4 linked regions of the Homo sapiens genome follow. The protein of the gene in region 3 interacts with the protein of the main gene of each other region in a biochemical or structural test. Each region holds a gene or a part of one and is shown on either strand. Other genes may lie near its edges.

Region 1 (4,522 bases), about 170 Mb from region 3:
TTCTGTTTTCTACAGGACATTGACAGTAGTGATAGGAAAAGCCCAACAGGGCAAGACACAGAAATAGAAGATATGCCGACACTTTCTCCACAGATATCCCTTGGAGTTGGAGAACAAGGTGCAGATTCTTCAATAGAGTCCCCTATGCCATGGTTATGTGCCTGTGGTGCCGAATGGTACCATGAAGGAAACGTCAAAACAAGACCAAGCAATCATGGGAAAGAGTTATGTGTCTTAAGTCACGAGCGACCTAAAACCAGAGTTCCCTACTCGAAAGAAACTGCAGTTATGCCTTGTGGCAGAACAGAAAGTGGGTGCGCCCCCACATCAGGGGTGACACAGACAAATGGAAACAACACAGGTGAGACAGAAAATGAAGAGTCGTGCCTACTGATCAGTAAGGAGATTTCCAAAAGAAAAAACCAAGAATCTTCCTTTGAAGCAGTCAAGGATCCATGCTTTTCTGCAAAAAGAAGAAAAGTGTCCCCCGAATCTTCCCCAGATCAAGAGGAAACAGAAATAAACTTTACCCAAAAACTGATAGATTTGGAGCATCTACTGTTTGAGAGACATAAACAAGAAGAACAGGACAGGTTATTGGCATTACAACTTCAGAAGGAGGTGGATAAAGAGCAAATGGTGCCAAACCGGCAAAAAGGATCCCCAGATGAGTATCACTTACGCGCTACATCCTCCCCTCCAGACAAAGTGCTAAATGGACAGAGGAAGAATCCCAAAGATGGGAACTTCAAAAGGCAAACTCACACAAAGCATCCAACACCAGAGAGAGGCTCAAGGGACAAAAATAGGCAAGTGTCTTTAAAGATGCAGTTGAAGCAGTCAGTTAATAGAAGAAAGATGCCAAATTCTACTAGAGATCACTGTAAGGTATCCAAAAGTGCTCACTCCCTACAGCCTAGCATTTCACAGAAAAGTGTTTTTCAGATGTTTCAGAGATGCACAAAGTAAGGCCTGGTAAAGGGAGTGCTTTGTGATCTAGTAAAGCTGGAATGTGAAGCTCTTTCCTATCATGGAATCTTCATCCATGTGTCATTCATGCTGCTCTCTAGGCACACTCATTGTCCTTAATGAAGGTCTGTGTGATTGTAAGGACTGCATAGACACATGAGCTTCTGCACAGCTCAGCGGTAAGCAGGGGTCCCCTGTCGTTTCCCTTCTTAATAACAGATGTGTATTAAGCTTTACAATTCTTAGAGATATCTTAAGCTTTGGCCAACTCCAGGAAATCTTCAAGTGCCATTGTCTTTCCAAAAACTGCATGTTTTATGGCCTTTGCTCACCTTTTTGTCGTGACTGGTAATCAAAGCAAGATTATACTATTCTGAGTGATTAAGGAACCCATGCAGGGTTTAAAATCCATTTTCTTGCTATTGTCCAATGTTTACAGAGTACTCAAAAGGTTTTCCTAAAGTAATCTAATTTCCATCTCCAATTTAATTCAATTTTCAGCATTGTAGCATTTCCTTTGGTGTTTGTTTTTTTTTTTTAGACGGAGTTTCAAAATTTGGATTCATATTCATATGTGGGAAATCCCAGATTTTTTTTTTTTTTTTTTTTTTTTTTTTTTTTTGGAGACAGAGTCTTGCTCTGTCACGCAGGCTGGTGTGCAATGGCGCGATCTCAGCTCACTGCAACCTCCGCCTCCCGAGTTCAAGCGATTCTTCTGCCTCAGCCTCCCGAGTAGCTGGGATCATAGGCATGTGCCACTACACCCAGCTACCCAGCTAATTTTTTTTTTTTTTTGTACTTTTAGTAGAGATGGGATTTCACCATGTTGGCCAGGCTGGTCTTGAACTCCTGTCCTCAGGTGATCCACCTGCTTCGGCCTCCCAGAGTGCTGGGATTATAGGCGTGAGCCACCACGCCCGGCCTGTTTCCTTTGGTTTAAAGTGGATTCGAATCAGTGTTAAATCAGAAAATCAGGGTTTTCTAGGAAATTGGGAATTAGTTGCCAGAAAGGAAACTGAACTATGCAGAAGGAGTTAAGAGCTGGGATGAGGCTGGATGGGGTGACTGACAGTCCAGATCATTGAAACAGATTGGGTCGTCGGAAACTGGTCCAGATGAGGCTGGATGGGGTGACTGACAGTCTGGATCATTGAAACTGATTAGGTCGTCAGAAACGGGTCCAGACGAGGATGAGGCTGAGGCTGGATGGGGTGACTGACAGTCTGGATCATTGAAACTGATTGGGTGGTTGGTCAGAAACGGGTCCAGATGAGGATGAGGCTGAGGCTGGATGGGGTGACTGACAGTCTGGATCATTGAAACTGATTGGGTGGTTGGTCAGAAACGGGTCCAGATGAGGATGAGGCTGGATGGGGTGACTGACAGTCTGGATCATTGAAACTGATTGGGTCGTCAGAAACTGGTCCAGATGAGGCTGGGTGGGGTGACTGACAGTTTGGATCATTGAAACTGATTGGGTGGTCAGAAACTGGTCCAGATGAGGATGTGGCTGGATGGGGTGACTGACAGTCTGGATCATTGAAACTGATTGGGTGGTCAGAAACTGGTCCAGATGAGGATGTGGCTGGATGGGGTGACTGACAGTCTGGATCATTGAAACTGATTGGGTGGTGAGAAATGGGTCCAGATGAGGATGAGGCTGGATGGGGTGACTGACAGTCTGGATCATTGAAACTGATTGGGTGGTGAGAAATGGGTCCAGATGAGGATGAGGCTGGATGGGGTGACTGACAGTCTGGATCATTGAAACTGGTCCACTATGACGCAGCAGGGGCAGTTTGGCAGAGCATCCTCTTCCCTTGTCCTTGTGAAAGAACACAGGAAACATTTGGGTTTTACAGCTTTTCACACCCTACTATCAGGCATCAGAATCAAAATTAGTTACTAAATTGGGTGAATTTTTGGAAACCTGCATTTCTATGCATCTGCTATTCCAGAAAAAAATGGGAATGTATTACAGGAGAGTTACCTCACAGTGTCTTATGTTGTGGAACCTGAAACATAACCACGTGTTTTCTTATATGATCATTTGTGTTGATACTGCTTTTATTTGAGTTTATGAACAGAAATAGAAAGTATGGTGCTTGGGTTTTGCCCTTTCTTACTCCTGAAAGTTAAATCAGAAGACACTGATTTCATTTTGTGAAATTTAGCTCAGAGACTATTGATCTTTTGTTTCATTAATATGAACAACTATTAGTAAAAAATAGCTTTAACAGCATTTCTGCTGATATCTAGTAATCTATTCTTTTAATGTGAAAATAAGATAAAATGTCCTGGAGCTAATTCTAGCTTAAATTTGCCAGTATTTCTGTATGTCATTAAGTTTTTTTCCTCTAAGGTTGGTAATAGAATTTTGTTAATCTTTGCATACCTGATGGCATCTATGTCAATGCTGATTGGGTAATTATAAATTCTGTGCTAATTTAAAACTTAATTTGCCTCTTAAGGTGATTGTCCTCTGAGTAATGATTGTAGTTAAATGAAGTATAGCTTGCAACTATACTATCACATGGGTCGTTAAGTAAAAATAAATAAACCAAATTTGTCTGAGACAGGCTAAGATCAATCTTCTCATCAAACCAATTTTTCTCTAAGAGCAATTTCACTTTCAGTTTTAGGGTGGACATTCTTGAATGCCTCAAATTAAACGTTATCTATTTAATCTTCCTGGAATAGTCTGTGACCAAAAAGGAGGGTGTGATATATTTAGGTGTAAATATATCACATATATGGTGTGATATATTTGGGATTTATATATTCAGCTCATTCTCTGTGAAGAAGTCTTCCTGACTAAAATTGGTTTCAAGATAAACTAATTTCTGTTAGTATTTCTACTCTGCCTACCATGTATGCCTTTTTGTTAGAAACTAATAAATGTATCAGTCACTAGCAGGTACTGGTCCTTTTTCCTCTCATTTTTGTGGAAAGGATATGCAAACACTGAATTTCTCAGGGAGTACTAAGGCTGTGCAGAGGCTGAGAATCTGAAAAATAAAATACTAAAAATAAAAATGGATTATTATGTGTATTTTACCACAACTTAAAAATATGTAAAAATCAGCTACATGAAAATTAAAAGTTCTGCATAACAAAAACTACCATCAAGGGAAATTGGAAGCTGTGGCAAACTTGGGAAGAAATAGTTGCAGTTCATCACAAAGAGCTAATTTCCTTTATGTAAAGTATCCTCCAGTTCATTAAGAAAAGACCAATAACTCGGCCGTGCATGGTGGCTCACACCTGTAATCCCAGCACTTTGGGAGGCCGAGGCAGGCAGATCACCTGAAGTCAGGAGTTTGAAACCAGCCTGGCCAACATGGGGAAACGCCGTCTCTACTAAAAATACAAAAATTAGCCGGGTGTGGTGGCGTGTGCCTGTAATCCCAACTATTCGGGAGGCTGAGACAGAGAATTGCTTGAACCCAGGAGGCGGAAGTTGCAGTGAGCCAAGATTGTGCCACTGCACTCCAGCCTGGGTGACAGACTGGAGACTCCGTCTCAAAAAAAAAAAAAAAAGAAAAAAAAGAAA
Region 2 (7,036 bases), on a different chromosome or scaffold from region 3:
TTCTCACAGAGGGGGATTTGGCAGGGTCATAGGACAATAGTGGAGGGAAGGTCAGCAGATAAACAAGTGAACAAAGGTCTCTGGTTTTCCTAGGCAGAGGACCCTGCGGCCTTCCGCAGCGTTTGTGTCCCTGGGTACTTGAGATTAGGGAGTGGTGATGACTCTTAATGAGCATGCTGCCTTCAAGCATCTGTTTAACAAAGCACATCTTGCACCGCCCTTAAGCCATTTAACTCTGAGTGGACACAGCACATGTTTCAGAGAGCACAGGGTTGGAGGTAAGGTCACAGATCAACAGGATCCCAAGGCAGAAGAATTTTTCTTAGTACAGAACAAAATGAAAAGTCTCCCATGTCTACTTCTTTCTACACAGACACGGCTACCATCCGATTTCTCAATCTTTTCCCCACCTTTCCCCCCTTTCTATTCCACAAAACCGCCATTGTCATCATGGCCCGTTCTCAATGAGCTGTTGGGCACACCTCCCAGACGGGGTGGTGGCTGGGCAGAGGGGCTCCTCACTTCCCAGTAGGGGCGGCCGGGCAGAGGCGCCCCTCACCTCCCGGATGGGGCGGCTGGCCAGGCGGGGGGCTGACCCCCCCACCTCCCTCCCGGACGGGGCGGCTGGCCGGGCAGAGGGGCTCCTCACTTCCCAGTAGGGGCGGCAGGGCAGAGGCGCCCCTCACCTCCCGGACAGGGCGGCTGGCCGGGTTGGGAGCTGACCCCTCCACCTCCCTCCCGGTCAGGGCGGCTGGCCGGGCCGGGGGCTGACCCCCACACCTCCCTCCCGGACGGGGCGGCTGGCCGGGCGGGGGGCTGACCCCCCCACCTCCCTCCCGGACGGGGCGGCTGGCTAGGCAGAGGGGCTCCTCACTTCCCAGTAGGGGCGGCCGGGCAGAGGCGCCCCTCACCTCCCGGACGGGGCGGCTGGCCAGGCGGGGGGCTGACCCCCCCACCTCCCTCCCGGACGGGGCGGCTGCCGGGCGGAGACGCTCCTCACTTCCCAGACGGGGTGGCTGCCAGGCAGAGAGGCTCCTCACTTCTCAGACGGGGCGGCTGCCGGGCGGAGAGGCTCCTCACTTCTCATACGGGGCGGCTGCCGGGCGGAGGGTCTCCTCACTTCTCAGACGGGGCGGCCGGGCAGAGACGCTCCTCACCTCCCAGACGGGGTGGCGGCCGGGCAGAGGCATTCCTCACATCCCAGACAGGGCGGCGGGGCAGAGGCGCTCCCCACATCCCAGACGACGGGCGGCCGGGCAGAGACGCTCCTCACTTCCTAGATGTGATGGCGGCCGGGAAGAGGCGCTCCTCACTTCCCAGATGGGATGGCGGCCGGGCAGAGACGGTCCTCACTTTCCAGACTGGGCAGCCAGGCAGAGGGGCTCCTCACATCCCAGACGATGGGCGGCCAGGCAGAGACGCTCCTCACTTCCCAGACGGGGTGGCGGCCGGGCAGAGGCTGCAATCTCGGCTTTTTGGGAGGCCAAGGCAGGCGGCTGGGAGGTGGAGGTTGTAGCGAGCCGAGATCACGCCACTGCACTCCAGCCTGGGCGCCATTGAGCACTGAGTGAACCAGACTCCGTCTGCAATCCCGGCACCTCGGGAGGCCGAGGCTGGCAGATCACTCGTGGTTAGGAGCTGGAGACCAGCCCGGCCATCACAGCGAAACCCCGTCTCCACCAAAAAAATACGAAAACCAGTCAGGCGTGGCGGCGCGCGCCTGCAATTGCAGGCACTCTGCAGGCTGAGGCAGGAGAATCAGGCAGGGAGGTTGCAGTGAGCCGAGATGGCAGCAGTATAGTCCAGCTTCGGCTCGGCATGAGAGGGAGACCATGGAAAGAGAGGGAGAGGGAGACCATGGGGAGAGGGAGACCATGGGGAGAGGGAGAGGGAGAGGGAGAGCAAAATCAGTATTTTTCTTAGTTACAGAGTGATTATACAGAAGATGCAACAGATACTAAACCTGATAGGGATATCGAGTTAGAGCTTTCAGCACTTGATACTGATGAACCTGATGGACAAAGTGAACCAATTGAAGTAAGTGCCACAATTAGATAATTGAGAGGCTTTGTTTGATTGAAAATTTATAAAATACTTTCATACTGAAGGATTAACATTTTATTTTCTTAGGAGATCTTGGACATACAGCTTGGTATCAGTTCTCAAAATGATCAGTTGCTAAATGGAATGGCAGTGGAAAATGGGCATCCAGTACAGCAGCACCAAAAGGAGCCACCAAAGCAGAAGAAACAGAGTTTAGGTGAAGACCATGTGATTCTGTGAGTGTTAGACAGAAAATTCATAAACAGTGGGCATAGGACATAATAAAGAGAAAAAAATGCGAAATTAATTTTTGGCTTTATGCTGTGAGGGGAAGACCTTATATGGGCAATGATTTGGTCAATCTGGATTTTTAGGGAAGAAAAAGTAAAATTGAACTAACAAAGCAGTCCATTTTGGTAGCCTGAAACTTGCTTTTTGTTGAGATAAAGTTAATCTGTGTTCCAGCATCAGGTTATGCTTCTTTAATCTGGTTGCCAAATTTCTAGACTACAAAATGGAGAATGACAACCTAGATTAATGGTTTCTCTTTTTGAAAATCATGTTAAGATTTTCTTGGCTAGGCTGGGCGTAGTGGCTCATGGCTGTAATCCCAGCACTTTGGAAGGCTGAGGCGGGTGGATCACAAGGAGTTCAAGAGCAGCCTGGCCAACATAGTGAAACCCTGTCTCTACAAAAATACAAAAAAATTAGCTGGGCATAGTGGCGGGCACCTGTATTCTCAGCTGCCTGGGAGGCTGAGGCAGGAGAATCGCTTGAACCCGGGAGGCGGAGACAGTGAGCCAAGATCGTGACACTGCACTCCAGCCTGGGCGACAGACTGAGACTCCATCTCAAAATTATCTATCTATCTATCTATCTATAGATAGATAGCATATAATATAGTATATTTTCTTGGCTATAATACTGCCATTTTGAATAATTACTGCCAAAAATATGGGCTTAATCTTCAACTTGGTAGTTTGGCCTTAAACTAACTAGTATTTTAATTTTTATCATAACTTTTGGAAAACAGGACTTTTCAAGCCAGGAGTGGTGGCTCACACCTGTAATCCCAGCACTTTGGGAGGCCGAGGCGGGTGGATCATTTGAGGTCAGGAGTTCTAGACCAGCCTGGCCAACATGGTGAAACCCCATCTCTACTAAAAATACAAAATAGCTGGGCGTGGTGGCACATGCCTGTAATCCCAGCTACTTGGGAGGCTGAGGCAGGAGAATTGCTTGAATCCAGGAGGCAGAGGTTGCATTGAGCCGAGATCATGCCACTGCACTCCAGCCTGGGCGACGGAGGGAGACTCTGTCTCAAAAATAGGAAAACAGGACTTTTCTAGTTACTTCTGATACTTCTAGTGATAAAGACATGTCTTTGCTAGAGACTCCTAAAGTTTGCTGTAGCTTTCATTAAATATGTATAGTCACCCTTAACAGTTTGCACTTAAAGCTAATTTGTTTTTAATGTCATTTCTTTTTTCTCAGGGAGGAGCAAAAAACAATTCTGCCGGTAACTTCTTGCTTTAGCCAGCCACTCCCAGTGTCTATTAGCAATGCAAGTTGCCTCCCCATCACCACATCTGTCAGTGCTGGCAACCTCATTCTGAAAACTCATGTTATGTCTGAAGATAAAAACGACTTTTTAAAACCTGTTGCAAATGGGAAGATGGTTAACAGCTGAAAGGAGGTTCATCTTTCAAATTTGTGACCACACCATGGAAGCATTTACACTAGCTTTTTATATATATAATATATATTATATAATGTATATTTTTTTTAAAAAAAAGATATTACTGGGGGCATCCATTTCCTGTGGACTCTTTGATACTTCAAGCCCTCTTGCATTAGCATTATGAAAAAAAAAAAGAAAATTTACTTTACTAGGGTAACATGTTCACTTTCCAGAAATGATTGGAATTTGGACAACATTTAACTTAAGCTTCAAGCAGCTTTTTATGAGTTTGTAGCAATCCGGTGCAGTAACTGAGCCATTTCCTATTTTAAATGGCTTCTATAGAAAATTAACAACTCAGTTATTAAACTAGCAGGATCCTACAATGATACATCTAGTGAAAGTAGACTTAGTTAACTTATTTATTTCTATTTTATGTTTCACTGAGAGAAGTTTCCATCTCATTCCAGCTGCTTTATTTATCTTTTTCATGGAACTTTGCATGGATTTCTTTTTCTTTTTTTAATTTTGAAGAGTGGAGTTAGATGTTCTTACCATAGAATTTTACAGGGTTATATACTAGCATTCTTTACTGCATTATATGTAGGAGTGTGGTGCAGTGCTTTTATCTGTAGCATATAATTTTTTTTTAATTTTCCATTTTTCAAGAGTAGTTTCTGCTTTGTTAATATTTATACACAGGCTACTTGTTGAAGTAATTAATTAAAAATATAACCAAGTGCCTAAGTCTTTCAGCTGATGTACTAGATATTAAATTCTCCTAAGTTATGCAGAATCGTTTTTACAATTTTGATAAATTATGCACTAATGTAATGGCAGTTTTTTAAAATGCAGATTTAAGCCTGTACATTATTGAATCTGATGACTTGGCAAAAGAATCAGGTGCTTTCAGCTTTCTTGAGAAAACCCTGTATGTAGCGTTTGCACTGACTAACAAGATGGTATTGCTGGGTTTTTAATTTAAACTAATTAATTTGGTTGTTCATTGCATTATCTTGGTTAAATATTGTTTATTGTTACTTCATGTTGGGGTTTAGTTTTTCTTGTTTTTTGACTGTTAGGTTGATAAGACTATGAACTGTGTAATAGTAGAACAGTGGCTAACATTTATTCATACTTAAGAACATGAATAATTTCTGCCTTGCTAAAATGTGACTGAAATGGTTTTGACTTGGCATCTGAAAGTATACAATGTGTTCAACAAGTCATGCATCAGATTTGTGGGAGGTATTGTACTGAAACCTAAATTTCAGTCAACATTTGAAAAGAAGAGCTGGGCATTCCTTCCTGGTGATCTTTACCTATAGTTTATCTATCTGTTTTTCTTCTGTTTCTTTAAGATTAGTTTGACTTTTATTATTATTTTTTTAATTAACTTCTGTGAAGTTGTTTACTCTGAAAATTGTACTGGAATATTTTAAGCCAAGCTGATCTTTCACCAGGTGTACTGTATGTAAGGGCTTTTCCTGCTAGCAAGATGCTTAAACAGGATCATGTTATTGGTCGTCTGAGCTATTTAGTTGTTTTACAAAACCACAGCATTGTATCAGATAAGATTTTGATAAAAAGTTTTGTGCACATTTCCAGGGGCGGGAGGGTTGACATTTCCCTGAAATTTCTTGATTAGAATGAGTAAATACTGGTGTTTGATACCTGTCTTAATGAACATGCTCATAAGGTGACTGATAAGTTGTAAATATACCTGAGAAACAAAGGGGTAGTTTTGATATTCTGGTGTCAGTATGGAAGATCTTACACATTTATTTAATACTCAAATGTATGAAGATGTTTGTTTGTAGCATAACAACAGCACAGTAGCCTTGACTTAGTTTCCTTTGGTTAGTACTGTACCTTTTTTGCCATGGCCAGTGCTCCCCATCCCTATGAAGACATTTTATTTATTTCACTCTGTAACCTGAAATGAATAGGAACAAGGGTTTTAAACCATGTTACATTAACTTTTCTGACATTATAAATTAGCCTAGAATATTACAGGAACATGATTGTTATATAATTTATATCAGAACCTTTCTATAAATATGTGCTTATTACATTTGAAATGCTTCCAATGTACTTTATTTGCTGTTTGTAATTCCAAAAAGGATATGCAAACCAGTCTGTCTATTTCATGGATATTTAATAGTGAGATCTTCCATGTTGAAGGTAATGTATTTTTTTTTAAGATTTTAAAATTGCTATTTTGTTACAAAATAGAGACCTATTAACAGTTTGAGAGCTCCTTATGTGCCCTCAGGGAAAGAACCCTCTGTGCAACAGAACTACACAAAACATCTTCAGCACGTTCTGAGGGTGAATATATACTACATAAATTGATCTTGTGTATTTAACCTTATCTTTTTAATTTTAAAATTGAAATTTTGAAACTTGGTTGTGCTCTGCTGGAGGGGGTTGGGATAAACTGCTTAGATGTTTGCCTACTTGTCCAGTGAAATTACATTTGCATCAGTATATGTATATACCTGCCAACCTTATTGGTATGTCTCAGAACATTTATATTAAAATAATGCTTGTCTTGCAGCAGGTGATCCCATAAAACAATAACTCCCTGTTCTTAAAAACTTACTCTCTTTTTCACTAACAACATAGGAATTGTTTCTGTGTTGAGATTATTCTGTGTTGCATCCATTCTCTATGTAGTGGTCACCTTCTGTCTGTCATGGTGGGCTTAATGTGAAGTAAAGCCATTGGTTCTCTGCCACTTTCGAAGAAAGGGCAGTTCATCTGATCCTTCTTCAGAATGGTACCTACTGATATCATCGAGGAAAATGTTACAAATCAGACCTAGGATATGACTTTTTAAAATTGAGGCATTTCCCGTCATTTGGCCTTTTTACCAACAAGATGTGATGTACAAATTTGGAATCAAAGGATACAAAGCAACAAGAGAGGAAATGTGTAATGTGGGTAACCAAACTGCATATGTTACCTATTGTCTAATCAGAAAAAATAGTCTGAGGTCTGGAAAGCAGGAAAGTGGTGGTTATTTTCTTTCATTTTTTGTGTTTTTGTTTTTTAATTTCTAAGTTCCATTCTGAAATCCATGTGCCGCATTCAGTTACTGTGGTTGTAGCATCAGTTTTTTTGTGGTTTCATTTCATTTTATGAATTCAGAGGAAGTTACATATATATTTTTTCTAGTTGGTACCTGAACAAAGCAGATTCCCTTGCCTTTGCTGCCACGTCTTATTTTCAATGCCATGTGATAAACCAGTGTCATACATGAAAGTTGTGCATTGTAATTTTCAAAAAAAAGGGAGTTCATTAGGCCAG
Region 3 (7,036 bases):
CATTGATTAGTTTCATTAATGAACTATTATAAATACTTTACGAAATTTTTTAACACAACTTTTAAGTCTCTGTGGGTCATACTTTCCATACTAGTCCATGTGTGCTACATGTGAGCAGCTGAACTCTAGAGGCACCAAAACTCAAACCTCCATAGCTGGTGCTATAAACCTTGCCTAGGCAAGGCTTCCTCTGCCTTTAGCCTGATTCTTGCGCTTAGCTTGCTTGGGCTCTGGCTCCAGGCTACGTCTGATTTTCTGGGCTCTGGTACTCACCCTGGCCCAACCTTATGCCCCCATTTTCACCCATAAAACATGGTGTTTTAATGTTACATTAAAACATATAACAAAGAAAGGAGATAATGAGGAGAAAAAGGAGGAGAAAAAAAACAATGAAATCAGTAAAAAGCTGGGGTGGAGGAATAACCTACAATTTTTTACATTGTTTCATTTTATACACTATCAATCCTGGGAAGCTGTCTGTGACAACAGAATAGACATGCATCCCTAGAATGCATATTTAAGAATAAGTATATGTATCTAGAAATATAATCCATATTGCTAAAAATCAATGAAAACTTCATACTGACCTTAGGGGGTTTAAACGGATAGTCTGGTGAAAAGGTAATGTCAAGAAAGAACACCCCTCCTTCATAGACAGATCCTGGGGGTCCCAATATAGTTGACCTCCATTCATAAATGTTGTCTCCTTTGGGTCCAGCACTGAAATAAGACATACAAATGAAATGTGCTTAGAAATTACATAAAGGCTGGAATTTAACAAAATCTATTTATGATAACCAATTGAGCAATTCCATAAAAACACAAAAAGTTAATCAGTTAACTCTCATGTTAAGATTCATATTGCCAATATTGTCATTATCCTAGAAGTGAAATATGTTGGTATCACTTCATAAAAGAACACCAAGATCCTCTTTTGCCATTCACAACCCTACGCCTATGGAACAAGAGTCCAAGGACTACAGGCCAGAGGTAGAAACACAAATGTTTAATGAAAGCATGAAATTATTTGTGATGTCAGAGACAAAATTTCAAAGTTAGAAGGACCTCTGGGGAATGACTAGTCTGATCCCTTTGCTAACAACTGAGAACACAAAGGAGGTTCAATGTTCATCATCCAAAGTCTCTGCTCAAATATCATATCCCATCTGAATCTTCCTTTCTTTCTCCCCACCCAAAGGACTTCCTGACCCATACATCATGACCAATGAGGTCTGTAGAGGATAAGATGTATCATTTTGTTTTATAACTGTGTTTTGCAACTAATGCTTCTTTCTACCCTCCCTAGAAGGTGCTTGAGGAACAGGTTGTACCTTGTCCTTAGTGCCTCTTAAGTCAGTATGTTGGATGATGATGAATTAATAACAAAGCAAGTGAAGAAGCCACATGGCTACTAGCAGTACACATGTCTCTGAGTTTCAGAGAATTTTGCTGAAAACAATATGGCCCACATGAGTCGAGTGAATTGTATTAGTTCTCTCAGGTGAAAAGAAGGGCAAAATGAGATTAGGATTTAGCTAATCCTAAGAATGGGCTCAAGCCATTCTTGGGTCTCAGCCTCTCAAGTAGCTGGGTTTACAGGCATGCATCACTGGACCACACCTGGCCCCTAGAAAATGTATTTTTAAATGAGTTGCAATAGGTCTTGTAGGGAAGCTATGAATAAAGTCATAAAAGATGTGTAAGATCTTTATGGAGAAAATTATATAAAACTTATTGAAAAGTACTCATAAGAGTTAAATAAATGGAGGGAGATACCAAGTTTATGGGTAGGGAGACCTGATATCAAATGTCAGTTTCTCCAAATTGATTCATCATAATTCCAATTAAAAAGTCCAACTGCTTTTTAAAACCAAAACTCGACAAGTTGATTTTAAAATTTTTTCGGAAGCTCAAAGAAATTCCTCAAACTTTTCCACACATATATGAAAACCTGATTTATGTCAACTGATGGGACTAGGAAAAGTTTTTATATTTGAAAAACAGAGAAACTGGATTTTTACCCTCAGTAAATAAACAAATGCTGTTGCAGATGGATTAAATATTTAAATGCAAAAGTCAAAATATTAGAGTTTGACTGAAGAGAGTGACAAGGCAAGCTGCAAACAGAAAAGATATTTGGATCATATAAAAGTGACCAAATACTAGTGTTGAGAATACACAAGTTCCTAAGAATCAACTAAAAAAAGACTCTATTAAAAAAGACATAGACATTTCCAAAAAAAGGGAAACATAAATGGCCAATAATCATATGAAAAATGCTCAATATCATCAAAATCGGGGAAATGAAACTGAAAATCAAAATTCAGTAATATTATTTTACAAAATGCAAATGCAAAAATCAATGCCTGACAAAACCACATGTTGATGAGGATGTGGAAAAACTAGAACTCCTATGTACTGCTGATGAGTATGAGTAATTCCTTCGGATGAGAATATAGGCTCATCTAGTTAAGTTGAATATACAGTTGACCCCTGAACAACAGGGTCTGCATTGCGTGGGTCAACTTAGATGAACTAAATTTCAAGAAAATACATTAGAAAAATTTGAGATTTGTGACAATTTGAAAAAACTCGCTGACAACGCACTAGCCTAGAAATATTGAAAAATTAAGAAAAAGGAACGTCATGAGTGCACAAAATATACACAGATATTAGTTTTTCTTATTTACTACCAGAAAATATATACCGATCTCTTACAAAGTTAAAATTATACCCACAAACCATACATGATGCCATGAGCATTTTAAAAGAAATGTAAGCAAACACAAACATAGAGTATTAAATCATAACTGCATAAAAGTAACTATAATACATACTGTACTACTGTAATAATTTTGTAGCCACCTCCTGTTGCTATTGCAATGAACTCAGCTATTGCCAATAGCTGCTTAAAATGCCTAAAATGCCACGTGACAAAAATCATCTCTGCATGAGCAGTTCATCTCTCCAGCAAATTGCGTATTGCCATAAAAAGTGCTCTCTCTCAGTTCTCGCATATTTTTCATTGTGTTTGTGCAATACCGTAAACCTTAAATAACACCATGGGATCCATACGAAGGGCCACTAGTGATTCTGGAAGTAGTCCCAAGAAGCAGAGAAAAGTCATGCCATTACAAGAAAAAGTTGAATTACTTGATATACACTGTAGATTGAGGTCTGTAGTTGTGGTTAGCTGCCATTTCACCTTGTAAACAGATGATGTAAACTCAGGGTAACAATAAACACGGTACAATACTGTAAATGCATTTTCTCTTCCTTATGACTTTCTTAATATTTTCTTTTTTCTAGCTTACTTTATTGTAAGAATACAGCATATATACATATAACATGCAAAATATGTATTAATTGAAATGTTTATGTTATGAGTAAGGCTTCTTGTCAAAAGTAGGGTATTATTAGTAGTTAAATTTGGAGAAAGTCAAACATTATACATGAATTTTTGATGGCACAGGGGGCTGGTACCTCTAAACCCTGAGTTGTTCAAGGGTCAACTGTACACCTATTTTACAACATAGCAACTATACTCCCAGGTATACACTACAGAGAAACTTTTACATGTGTGTATCACCAGAAGACATTGAGAATAATGTTTATTGAAGCACTATTTATAATAGCAAAATTGGAAACAACACAAATGGCTACTGACAGAAAAATGGGTAAATCCACCCAAAGGAATACTATATAGCAGTGACAATATACAGATTAACATGAATGAATCTTAAAAATACATTTAATAAAAAATTAAGACTAAAAAGAATCTATACAGTAGGATACTATTTCTACAAAGCTTAAAAACAAGCAAACAGGGACATATACTACTGAGGGACACATAAATATGAGGTAAGAAAAGAAAACCAGTAAGAAAAAAGTTCAGAAGAGTGGTTTCCTGGGTAGGAGCAGAGGTTGGAGAAGCAGCACACTGGAGTTTCAATGGTTCTGGGTATGTTTCACTTCTCAGTGTGTGCAGTGGATTCAGGTGCTTTCTGTTTTATTACTAGGTTTTCTCACCTACCATGTGTTAGATACGTTATTACATAGGTACCAAATTCTTATATTAAGAAAAATTATGTCAAAGGTCTACCAATATGGTGAGAAAAGCAACTTGCTGCATATGTACAATGTGATCCTACTGTATAAATAAAAAAAAGATCCTACTGTATGAATTTACAGGTCCTACTGTATGAATATTTTATATTATTTATGGATACATATCTATGTCAAAGTCTTTTAAGAAATTAACTGGAAAGATAAACCTAAATTCATGATAGTGGTTATGAGAACAACAAGGGATGAGGTGGAATGGGGAGATGGGAGGAAACAGATGTAGAGATAGGAAATGAAGGAGAGTTACATTTTATTTCTAGTGTTTGATTTCTCTTGTTTAAAAAAGGATGAAGTAAATAAAATCACAGTTATCCTAGCTTATTGCAAAGGGTTGGAATATATTGAGAAGCAGTGGTGTAAGGGACTAGAGTACAGCATTCCTCCCCCATCACCCCATTACCTCCTTTTCCTGAGGCTGGCAATGAGGCATAGACAGAGTATATTCAGCCCAGATGACAATAAAGCTTTGGCAACAACAGCCTCTTGTTGCCAGACAAGCTCACTCACTCAGATGAATAATACACATGGTTATGCCCTGAGCTATAATTAAACCCAATATGAATAGATAAGCTTATCAGAAGGAAGAGCTTAAAAGTAGAGAAAATCACAGGTTTATAGTTACAACATTACTTCAAGGTAGATGAATAAATTCAGTTAAAAAGTACACACAGGTGAGCGTATACAGCTATGAAATAACATACACAAACACATTTAGTAAATACCAAGCTACGATTTCTCTGGGTCACTTTAAGAAATCTTAAAATGGCCTCCCAAGAATGGTAACCACAGTAAATTACAAGATATAGGCTAAATAAGGAGTCACTACCAAATAGTGTGGCTGAGGAAGGGACTCTGAAGCAGAAGACAGCAGTATCTCACCAAGAAGGGCAATGTCTGCAGATAACATAAACTCAATTTTTGCCCATTCCAAGTTTTATTTGGCTCTCAGTCAGAACTCCAAGTTTTATTGGTTCTTTGAAGTCAGTCAGCTGTCTATGTAGTTATTAACAGTGGACTAAAATAACACAGCTAATATTATCACTCTGAATTGGTTTATGCTGTCAAAGTGTGCCACTTTAAGAAATCTTAGCCAGTAGCAACAAATTATCTTGAAAACAGACTGGTATTTTAAAATGCACATAAAACTAGCCTGTAATCACAGCACTTTGGGAGGCTGAGGCGGGCAGATCATTTGAGGCCAGGAGTTTGAGACCAGCCTGGCCAACTTGGTGAAACCCCATCTTTACTAAAAAAAATACAAAAATTTGCCAGGTGTGGTGGTGGGCGCCTGTAATCCCAGCTACTCGGGAGGAGTATCTGAAATACTCCTATCCCAGGAGATAGAAGATGGGATACTATCTGAGGCAGGAGAATTGCTTGAACCCAGGAGGTGGAGGTTGCAGTGAGCCAAGACTGCGCCACTGCACTCCAGCCTGGGTGGCAGAGTGAGACTCTCAAAAAAAAAAGAAAAAAGCATATAAAACTAATACTACTTCCCTCATATAAAAATTGGGTTTTAGCAACCTGGACTCTTCTAACATTTTAGAAATGTATCACTTGAAATCCCAAAGCTTACAGCAGTGGTTCTTGAACTACACAGCCCTCTGCCCCACTCCTATTTGGATATGTACCAGTTGAGAACCCAACATCCAAAACTTTGCTGTATAATATGGTAGCCATGTGGCTACTAAGCACTTGAAATGTGGCTAGGGCAAATTGAAATGTGCTGTATGTGTAAAATATATACCTAAGTTTGAAGACTTAATGCAAAAGAAAGTAAAATAGCTCATTAATAATTTTAATAATTACTATTTACCTATTAATTTAATAATTATTAATGAACAACTACATGTTGAAATGGTAATACTTGGAATGTATTGGCGTAAAGATGTATGAAAATATGCTTTGCTTATTTTTTTCCTTTAGTCTGGCTGTCAGGAGATTTAAAATTACATACATGGCTCACATCATATTTCTGTATCATGAATCAAGAAGTGAGAAAGAAATCTTTTAATCTTTTAATGATCACTTATCTCTCAAGCTGAACAAATAAAATTTGGTGCCAGAGGACACTTGCAGTACAGAGCAATGATGAAGAACATAAACAGGCTCTGGAGTCAGACTAAGTTGTCTGAATCCTAGCCTTGGCATTTAAAGCCTGTTAGGACCTGGGTAAATGTGTAATTTTTCTATGTCTTAGTTTCCTTGACTGCAAAATGAGATCATTATAGCACAAATCTTGTAAATTTTTAGTAGAACTGTACTCACAGAACTTGGAAAATAGTAACCCTCCAAATGTCAGTTGCTGTTGTGCTTGCTGTTACACGCTGCAGATGATCAAAAATACACTCAAAGAGGTTGACTGCTTTGTAAATTTATAAGAATGGTTTCAGGACTGAAAAACAAGGCTACAAAGATGTGTACATCAAAAAAAAATAATGATTCTGTAACCTAATCTTATGATGTATATTTAGATATAGCAGAACTTTAGAAATCATGTATATCCACTGCTGCCACTCTTAGGAAATCCAAATTATCAATGAATAGAATGTTTATTTAACAACAGGATTTTCAGGTATTAGGTTATTAAGTAATGTTTTCCCACTTGCAACATTCTGAAAATGATCAATTCCCTTACTGTTTTATTTTCAGATTTTATTTTTTAAATAAGAAAAAAAACCTAAAGCTTTCATAGTTAAATTTCAAAATAAAAACACAATGAGGTAAATCTTTTAGAATGAAAAATATCAGCAAATTACGATTTGGCTGAATGCCCAAGGTTGCTGCTTCAGGAGAAATTCTGCAACAGAATCAAACTGTGTTCAGCTTCCCATGCTGCAGCCTACAGTGGATGAGCCCCTATGTACAGCTGAAATATTACATGCAATAAAAATCATGAAAATAGGCTCTC
Region 4 (7,036 bases), on a different chromosome or scaffold from region 3:
AAGAACAGTAGAACTGAAAAGCTCGGGGCTGCTACGGATTGCCTTACCTCTCACTGCATGAGCCATCTGCTTCTGTGCTGCCTGAATTAAATCTCTGGCTAGGGTCTTTTCATCAAATGTTTGGCCTCTAGTGAACAGGTAATTCTCCTTACTTAAAGTGGTTTGCTCATTCAATGGTATCTCAGCCTTCACATTCTTGCTAGCTAAGCAATCACTGGTAGATAGAGTTTCCCTGCTGTGAGGTCCTGAACTTGTGTCACCCTTGCCAGCACTCTGGGAAACCTGGGGCTCCTCTTTCACTGTGACAGATTCCTGCTCATCACCAGTACTTTCCTCATCAGTGTCATCTTCTTTGCTGCTGCTACTCTCTCCTGTTGCATTTTTACAGTCTGTATATCCCATTTTCAAGGCTTCAGTGGGGCTGCTTAGACAAAAACGATCTTCAGGGTTTACAGAATGGGTCCTCCTAAAGCTCTCTGAGCCCCGGCCGTAGGTAGAAATATTCAGTAAGTAGTGCCCTGCCATTGCAGGTTTGGATGTCCTTCTGCCAGCAAAACCCAGCATGAACCTCTGGCTTGTGGAGATGTCTTCCAGCTGGAAACCTGAGTGAGCGAAGTTGAACTGTGAGGGCGGCACAACTGAGAGAAGATTCTGCCTCCGAACCCTCTGAATGAGAGTCTGAAGGATCTGATCTTGGGTTGCTTTACTTAGTCCTTCGTGGTATTGGTGTGTGTCAATGCTGGAGTCCCTCAGCTCCTTAGCTGAAAAGAGCTGAAGGGGCCTTGGAACCTGGGGGAGCTGCTTACTTTGCAAGGTTTTGCCCAGCTGCTGCTGCGTAGCTGGATGGGACTGTCTCTCATTAACTTCCTCTCTGGTGCTATTTTCTGTTGTGTTGGTAGCTATGAGCGCTCCCATCCCCCTTTCCTCTTTTGCAGTCAGTGGAACCGTTTTCATTTCAACTTTGGTGAGAGGTTTAGGCAGAATTTGCTCCATGGGAACATCTTTGCCTTGAAGCAGCTGAGTCACTAAAGGATTATTAGCAGGGATACTAGAGGTTGGTCTTAAAGTGGGTCCATTCATGTTTAAAGAAGTTCCTGGGGTTTTAAGGCTAGAAGCTGCTGGCAAAGTGCTCGAGGGTGGAGCTGATCCAGCAGGTGCTGTAGTTGCACTGACCTGGGGTACAGGAAGCTTTTCTAAAGTGGCTGTGGTCAATAAAGATGTTAAAGGGGAGGGAGTTACAGCCACTGGCACACTAGCATCTGTCTTTGATGAGGCTGAAGGGTTAGGTATATTCTTACTAGGACCTGCTTTGAGCTCAACTGTGCCATCAGCTGCACAATGAACAGGTGAGGCACCTGAGATTAGAGCAGGACCTGTTGGAGAAGGTGCTTTCTCCTGTCTGCAACTACTGGGCCCTTGTGGATGGCTGACAGAGGCCACTGTGGCTGTTGCTCTGGTGGGGTTCAGTTTTTCATTATCCAATTTCTCTATGTGGGCTGGTGATGGGACACTTGTGCATGCTCCACTGACGGCAGGTGTTGGAGGCACTGGGGGGGTTTGCTGTAGTTGTGCTCCAGAGACACTATGAGGCTGTGCCTGGCTTGGGGTGGTCTTGGTCTCAGACTGGGGCTGAGTCTCTGGACCACAGGGTAAAAGCTCTCTCGTACCTCCCCTGCTTCCAGTTCCTGCCAGTTCCAGTGTGGGGCCCTTTCCAGTTTCACTGACTCTGTCTGAGCCTGGACTGCCTCCTCTAGCAGTCTGCCCTTCACCACCCTCTCCTGGACCTTGTCCACCCCCTGGGCCAGGTCCTGGAATGGTCCCTCCAACTGAGGCGGCTGCAGCAGCTGCGGCGGCAGCGGCAGCTGCTGCCCTCTGTGCTTTGACCAGTTGGGCTTTTGCTTTGATGTCTGCAAGAGTTCTGGCTCCTGTTCTGTTAGGACTAGTGATGGAGACTGGAAAACGAGCCCTGGGAGAGACCTGCGATGGATGAAACGGCATGGGGGAGATTCTGGAGACCGGGATCTGAAAGAAGTAGAGGGGAAAAAAACAACAGAGCTTAGTTTTCATTTGTAAGAATAACAAAACTTCATTAGCCCTCACATTTTAAAAACAGATGAACACTACAGTACCTGTGACAAACATGGGTGGTCTATGGCCGAGAGGCCAAACCTTGGAGACAGCAATACTAGTTTGTCTCTAGGGTCCTTGCATCCACTTTTTCTATTGGTGCCAAAGACGACTGCTTCCACTCTCACCCCAAATCCCCACACCTCTTTTCCTATCTCAACTCCCTCCTAATGCCACTATTACAAGTGCTTATTATGATACAAAGTTTTCTATGGTATTTGCATTTTTAAAAAGTGTATTTATGTTTGAGAAAGAAGAGAAAAGCAAGCAAGCCAGCCACCCATACCACTACTGTCTTTTAGTTCTTAGCTTTACTACCAAGGTCCAGGGGAAAATACTTGCTCTTCTCTGTTCCACACACACACACACACACACACACACACACACACACACACACACTTGGGCTGGATTATCTCAAATTACACAGGCTTCTAGACAGCACTGGAAGGAAGACAATGTGTGATCTATAGGAGCCCCCACCATGCCCATACACATAAAGGAGTATGTACATAATGTTTGCCAGCCATTCTCATCTCTGGCTGGTATTATATTTACTTGCGCAATTTTAAAATATATATGCTCTGGGTCCTATCCCAAAAAATTACAAATCAGAACCCCCAAGACCCTAGGAAGTCTTTTTTTTTTTTTTTAGATAGGGTCTTGCTCTGTCTCCCAGGCTGGAGTGTAGTGGTGTGATCTCGGCTCACTGCAACCTCAGTCTCCTGGGTTCAAGTGATTCTTGTGCGTCTGCCACCCGAGTAGCTGGGATTACAGGTGTGGGTCACCACGTCTGGCTAACTTTTGTATTTTTAGTAGAGATGGGGTTTCACCATGTTGGCTAGGCTAGTCTTGAACTCCTGACCTCTTGTGATATACCTGCCTCGGCCTCCCAAAGTGCTGGGATTACAGGCATGAGCCACAGCACCCAGCCTGAAAAAGCCTGGCCAACACAGTGACTCCAGAGGGAGCCTCCAGCTCAAAAAAAAAAAAAAAAAAAGTTTCTAAAAAGCTACTTGTGAGATTCTGATGTCTATCAGGTTTGAAACCATTGATTTCCTTCTTTTTTTTTTTTTTTTTTTTTTGAGACAGTCTCACTCTGTCACCCAGGCTGGAGTGCAGTGGCAGAATCTCAGCTCACTGTAACCTCTGCCTCCTGGGTTCAAGTGATTCTTGTGGCTCAGCCTCCCGAGTAGCTGGGATTACAGGTGCCTGCCACCACACCCAGCTAATTTTTTTGTATTTTTAGTAAAGATGGGGTTTCACCATGTTGGCCAGGATGGTCTCGAACTCCTGACTTCAAGTGATCCACCCACCTCGGCCTCCCAAAGTGCTGGGATTACAGGCGTGAGCCACCACGCCTGGCTGAAACCAATGATTTTCATACCATAAAATCATCATGTCTGAAACAAATCTGCCTTCTGTCCTGAACAATACTTTGAAAGCTATTAGAGTTACTAATAATTCAACAAGATGTGGACTCTTCTAGTAACTGGTTGAGTTTAAAGGAGCAAATAACTGTTAAGATGTTCTAAAGCATTTAATTAAAAAAAAATTAACCCACTAAACCCTAAGAAAATGCATGCCATTTTTCTTAATGTTTTTAAATTAAGAATAATAAAGTCACTAAACATTTTTCATTATTTGCAATACTCATTTCTCAAAAGGTCAGTAGTCCTCAAAAACTGATTCTCTAATTCCGAAGTTAGAGCCATGGGACTTCATAACAGGTGTCACAGAGTATATATTTTACATCAGGAAACCTATTTAATCTCTCTAAGAGCTAAATCTATTTCACATCCAATTCGAACAAGCCTAGATAGTATATTTACTCATCACATAGCATTTTAGAGGCTGCCTACAGTAAGAAAGAAGCAGTTATTGTCCCTTATTTATATCATATGAAAGAAACTGCAGGGGAAAAAATGAAAAAAAAAAAAAAGATAAAACTAAAAAAGTAAATACAAGAAAGGTGTTTAGGGGAATTTATATAGGGACAAACAACTTTACATAAGAATACTCGTGAGAGTAACTCTATACCTAACATAATACATCATATCTATCATAATAACACAATCATTAATAACATGTTGAAATCAAATAAGAACAACCATTATAAGTGGTTAAAATGAAAGGTTTCGATACCTAAAAATAAGTTTCAGTTACTTACGTAAATAGCCCTATTACCTGATTATGCAAAATAAATCATATTTCTTTTTAAGTACAAAACCAAAGCTGTCCAGGCATTGATAACAATTTAATTTACTGAGAAGCCCTACCCCGGGAGAGCAGAGAGATTCAATCCTTTTCTTTTTAAGTGTACAGTCATCCCTTGGTATCCATGGGGGATTGGTTCTAGGACCCCAGAGGATATCAAAATCTGAGGATGCTCAAGTCCTTTATATAAAATGGCGTAGTATTTGCAGATAACCTCCACATATCTTCCCATATATTTTAAGTCATCTCTAGATTATTTATAACACCTAACATAATGTAAATGCTATATAAATTGTTATACTGTATTTTTACATTTGTATTTAATTTTCTTTTCCAAATATTGCGATAGGTGGTTGGTTGAAAATACTGCATTAACCTTGAGGATGTGGAACTTGCTGATACAGAGGGCTGACTGTATAGGGAATGTAAAACATATAATGTGCATGTGTGTATATATAGTTTTTATATACATTTGTATATATATAAAAGTTGTAACTAAGTTATAACATTTATACTACATTGTGAATTTTGTTTTCTACTACTACATTGTGAATTTTGTTTTCTACTTAAATTTTGTTTAAAAGGTTTTGTTCTGTTATAAATTACATTAAACTTTGTCTAAGAAAGCAGTATTTGAGATAGGGTCTAAGAGAAGAGAGTTACTAAAGACACTTCTGGAGAAGTCTTTTTTGAGGGAGATGAGGGAGAAGAAAGGAAAAGAACTGAAAAAAGTAAAATTATATTAACTTGGTCACAGTGGATTAAAGTTTCTGTGTAATCCCTTTGGACTAGCAGAAAGCAGACAGAATATGATGTAACCCAGCCTGTTTACAGGTGAGAAAATAGAAATGATGGGTCTTAGCAACATTTATAGCAAAACCTAAACAGTTACTCAGCTCTCAGGTCTGGAGATAAGCTGTGAATGACATTGAAGAAAAGTTTCTAATATTTTTATAAGAAAGAATAGTAAAAGTGATTATAATAAAAATCAGAATCTCTGGCGATGCATGTTAATGGTAGAAAAAAAAATAAGAAAAAACCCCCATAGATTCGTAAGTGCTAAAATCACCAATTTTAAAGAGCAATGAATTGGCCAGGCGTGGTGGCTCACACCTATAACCCTAGCACTTTGGGAGGCCGAGGCAGGTGGATCTTGAAGTCAGGAGTTCAAGACCAGCCTGGCCAACACGGTGAGACCCCTTTACAAATAATTATTTGTAAACATACAAAAATTAGCCAGGCGTCGTGGCTTAATGCCTATAATCCTAGCTACTTGGGAGGCTGAGACAGGAGAATCCCTTGAATCCGGGAGGTGGAGGCTGCAGTGAGCCAAGATTGCATCACTGCATTCCAGCCTGGACGACAGTGCAAGACTCCATCTTGGGGGGCAAAAAACAAGCAATGAATAAAAAAGTAATAGGAAGTACAGACGGTGGCCCACGCCTGTAATCCCAGCACTTTGGGAGGCAGAGGAGGGCAGATGACTTGAGGTCAGGAGTTTGGGACCAGCCTGGCCAACATGGTGAAACCCCATCTCTACTAAAAAATAAAATTACAAAAATTAGCCAGGTATGGTGGTGCATGCCTGTAATCCCAGCTACTCAGGAGGCTGAGGCAGGAGAATCGCTTGAACCTGGGAGGTGGAGACTGCAGTGAGCCAAGATTGTGCCACTGCACTCCAGCCTGGACAACAGAACGAGACTCCGTTAAAAAAAAAAAAAATACAATGAGAATGGGTCAAGTTCTGGTAAGTGAATCTTTCCAAGGAATACTTCCTGACAGAACTAATTTTGGTTCACCTCAGTTAAATAAAAAGGGGGAAAAAGTACTTTTACTAGTCTTATTTTTCCATTTATATCCTAATGAGTAATATTCAGTGCGTTGCCTCTTAAATTCCTTGGTAAGAAAAATAAACACTATTTATTAAATGAATGAACTGCAAGCTGATATTAAGCACAAGCCCAAGTATTAATAAACCTTTAAGATCAGAAGTAAAAATGTGTTTGGGTTTTAAAAGGCATTGTATATTAAGACAGTCAAAGATACTACCTAGAAGAATTTGAAAGATTTGACATGCAGCAATACAAGGCTAACTGGAAGTTAATCACATGCTAAGCAGCAGAGCTTACCAAGACTATTCCATGTTACTAGTGTCCCTCAAGTAACCAGTAGTGACAGAAGACAGCTACACATATTTCCTTTAATAGGAGGGAGCTAAAGGTAGTTCCTGATTCACAGAACATCAAGTCAGTTATGGTAGCAAGAAAAGGGTAAACTCAAATACCATGGCTCTTGGTACAAAGATAGGATCCTTTGATTACACCAATAGTCTCCTCATGCTTAGTCTCACATTTCTTATTTTGTCAATAATTTTCATGATGGTCTGGAAGCATGCATTACAGACTACCTGTAGGGGAACCGAAGGAAGCCCAAGACTCTTCCACCCTGGGATTGTGATCAACTCTTCTCTGCAATATCTGCGTGAACCCTGGCCCAAAAAATCTAAGAGGTCCTGAGGAGACAGTAGGACAGTTGGCTGTCAATGTTCTACAGAGGCTGAGAATTATAACTAAGTTTTTGGAAGTCCATTTAAATTATATTTGGTCTAAGAGTCTGAGATCAGGTGCCTCTGAGCTCAAGTAGTGAGCACAGGGGTGGTTTACATTAGATGCCCAGGTACCTTCCTTATGCAAAC

Evidence for each region.
Region 1: the proteins of UBE2E2 (region 3) and RNF168 form a complex in vitro, tested with the Homo sapiens proteins (one study listed by BioGRID).
Region 2: the proteins of UBE2E2 (region 3) and RC3H2 form a complex in vitro, tested with the Homo sapiens proteins (one study listed by BioGRID).
Region 4: of the proteins of UBE2E2 (region 3) and ASXL2, one has a biochemical effect on the other in vitro, tested with the Homo sapiens proteins (one study listed by BioGRID).

Annotation. Positions count from the first base shown.
Region 1 is NC_000003.12:196,468,266-196,472,787, reverse strand, and holds the end of RNF168 (E3 ubiquitin-protein ligase RNF168), read left to right. Parts: intron 1-15; coding exon 16-969; 3' UTR 970-4,005; downstream 4,006-4,522. UniProt on the Homo sapiens protein: E3 ubiquitin-protein ligase required for accumulation of repair proteins to sites of DNA damage. Acts with UBE2N/UBC13 to amplify the RNF8-dependent histone ubiquitination.
Region 2 is NC_000009.12:122,846,324-122,853,359, reverse strand, and holds part of RC3H2 (roquin-2), read left to right. Parts: intron 1-1,923; coding exon 1,924-2,037; intron 2,038-2,130; coding exon 2,131-2,279; intron 2,280-3,537; coding exon 3,538-3,733; 3' UTR 3,734-7,036. UniProt on the Homo sapiens protein: Post-transcriptional repressor of mRNAs containing a conserved stem loop motif, called constitutive decay element (CDE), which is often located in the 3'-UTR, as in HMGXB3, ICOS, IER3, NFKBID, NFKBIZ, PPP1R10, TNF and in many more mRNAs.
Region 3 is NC_000003.12:23,493,292-23,500,327, reverse strand, and holds part of UBE2E2 (ubiquitin-conjugating enzyme E2 E2), read right to left. Parts: intron 721-7,036; coding exon 588-720; intron 1-587.
Region 4 is NC_000002.12:25,742,455-25,749,490, forward strand, and holds part of ASXL2 (putative Polycomb group protein ASXL2), read right to left. Parts: intron 2,023-7,036; coding exon 1-2,022.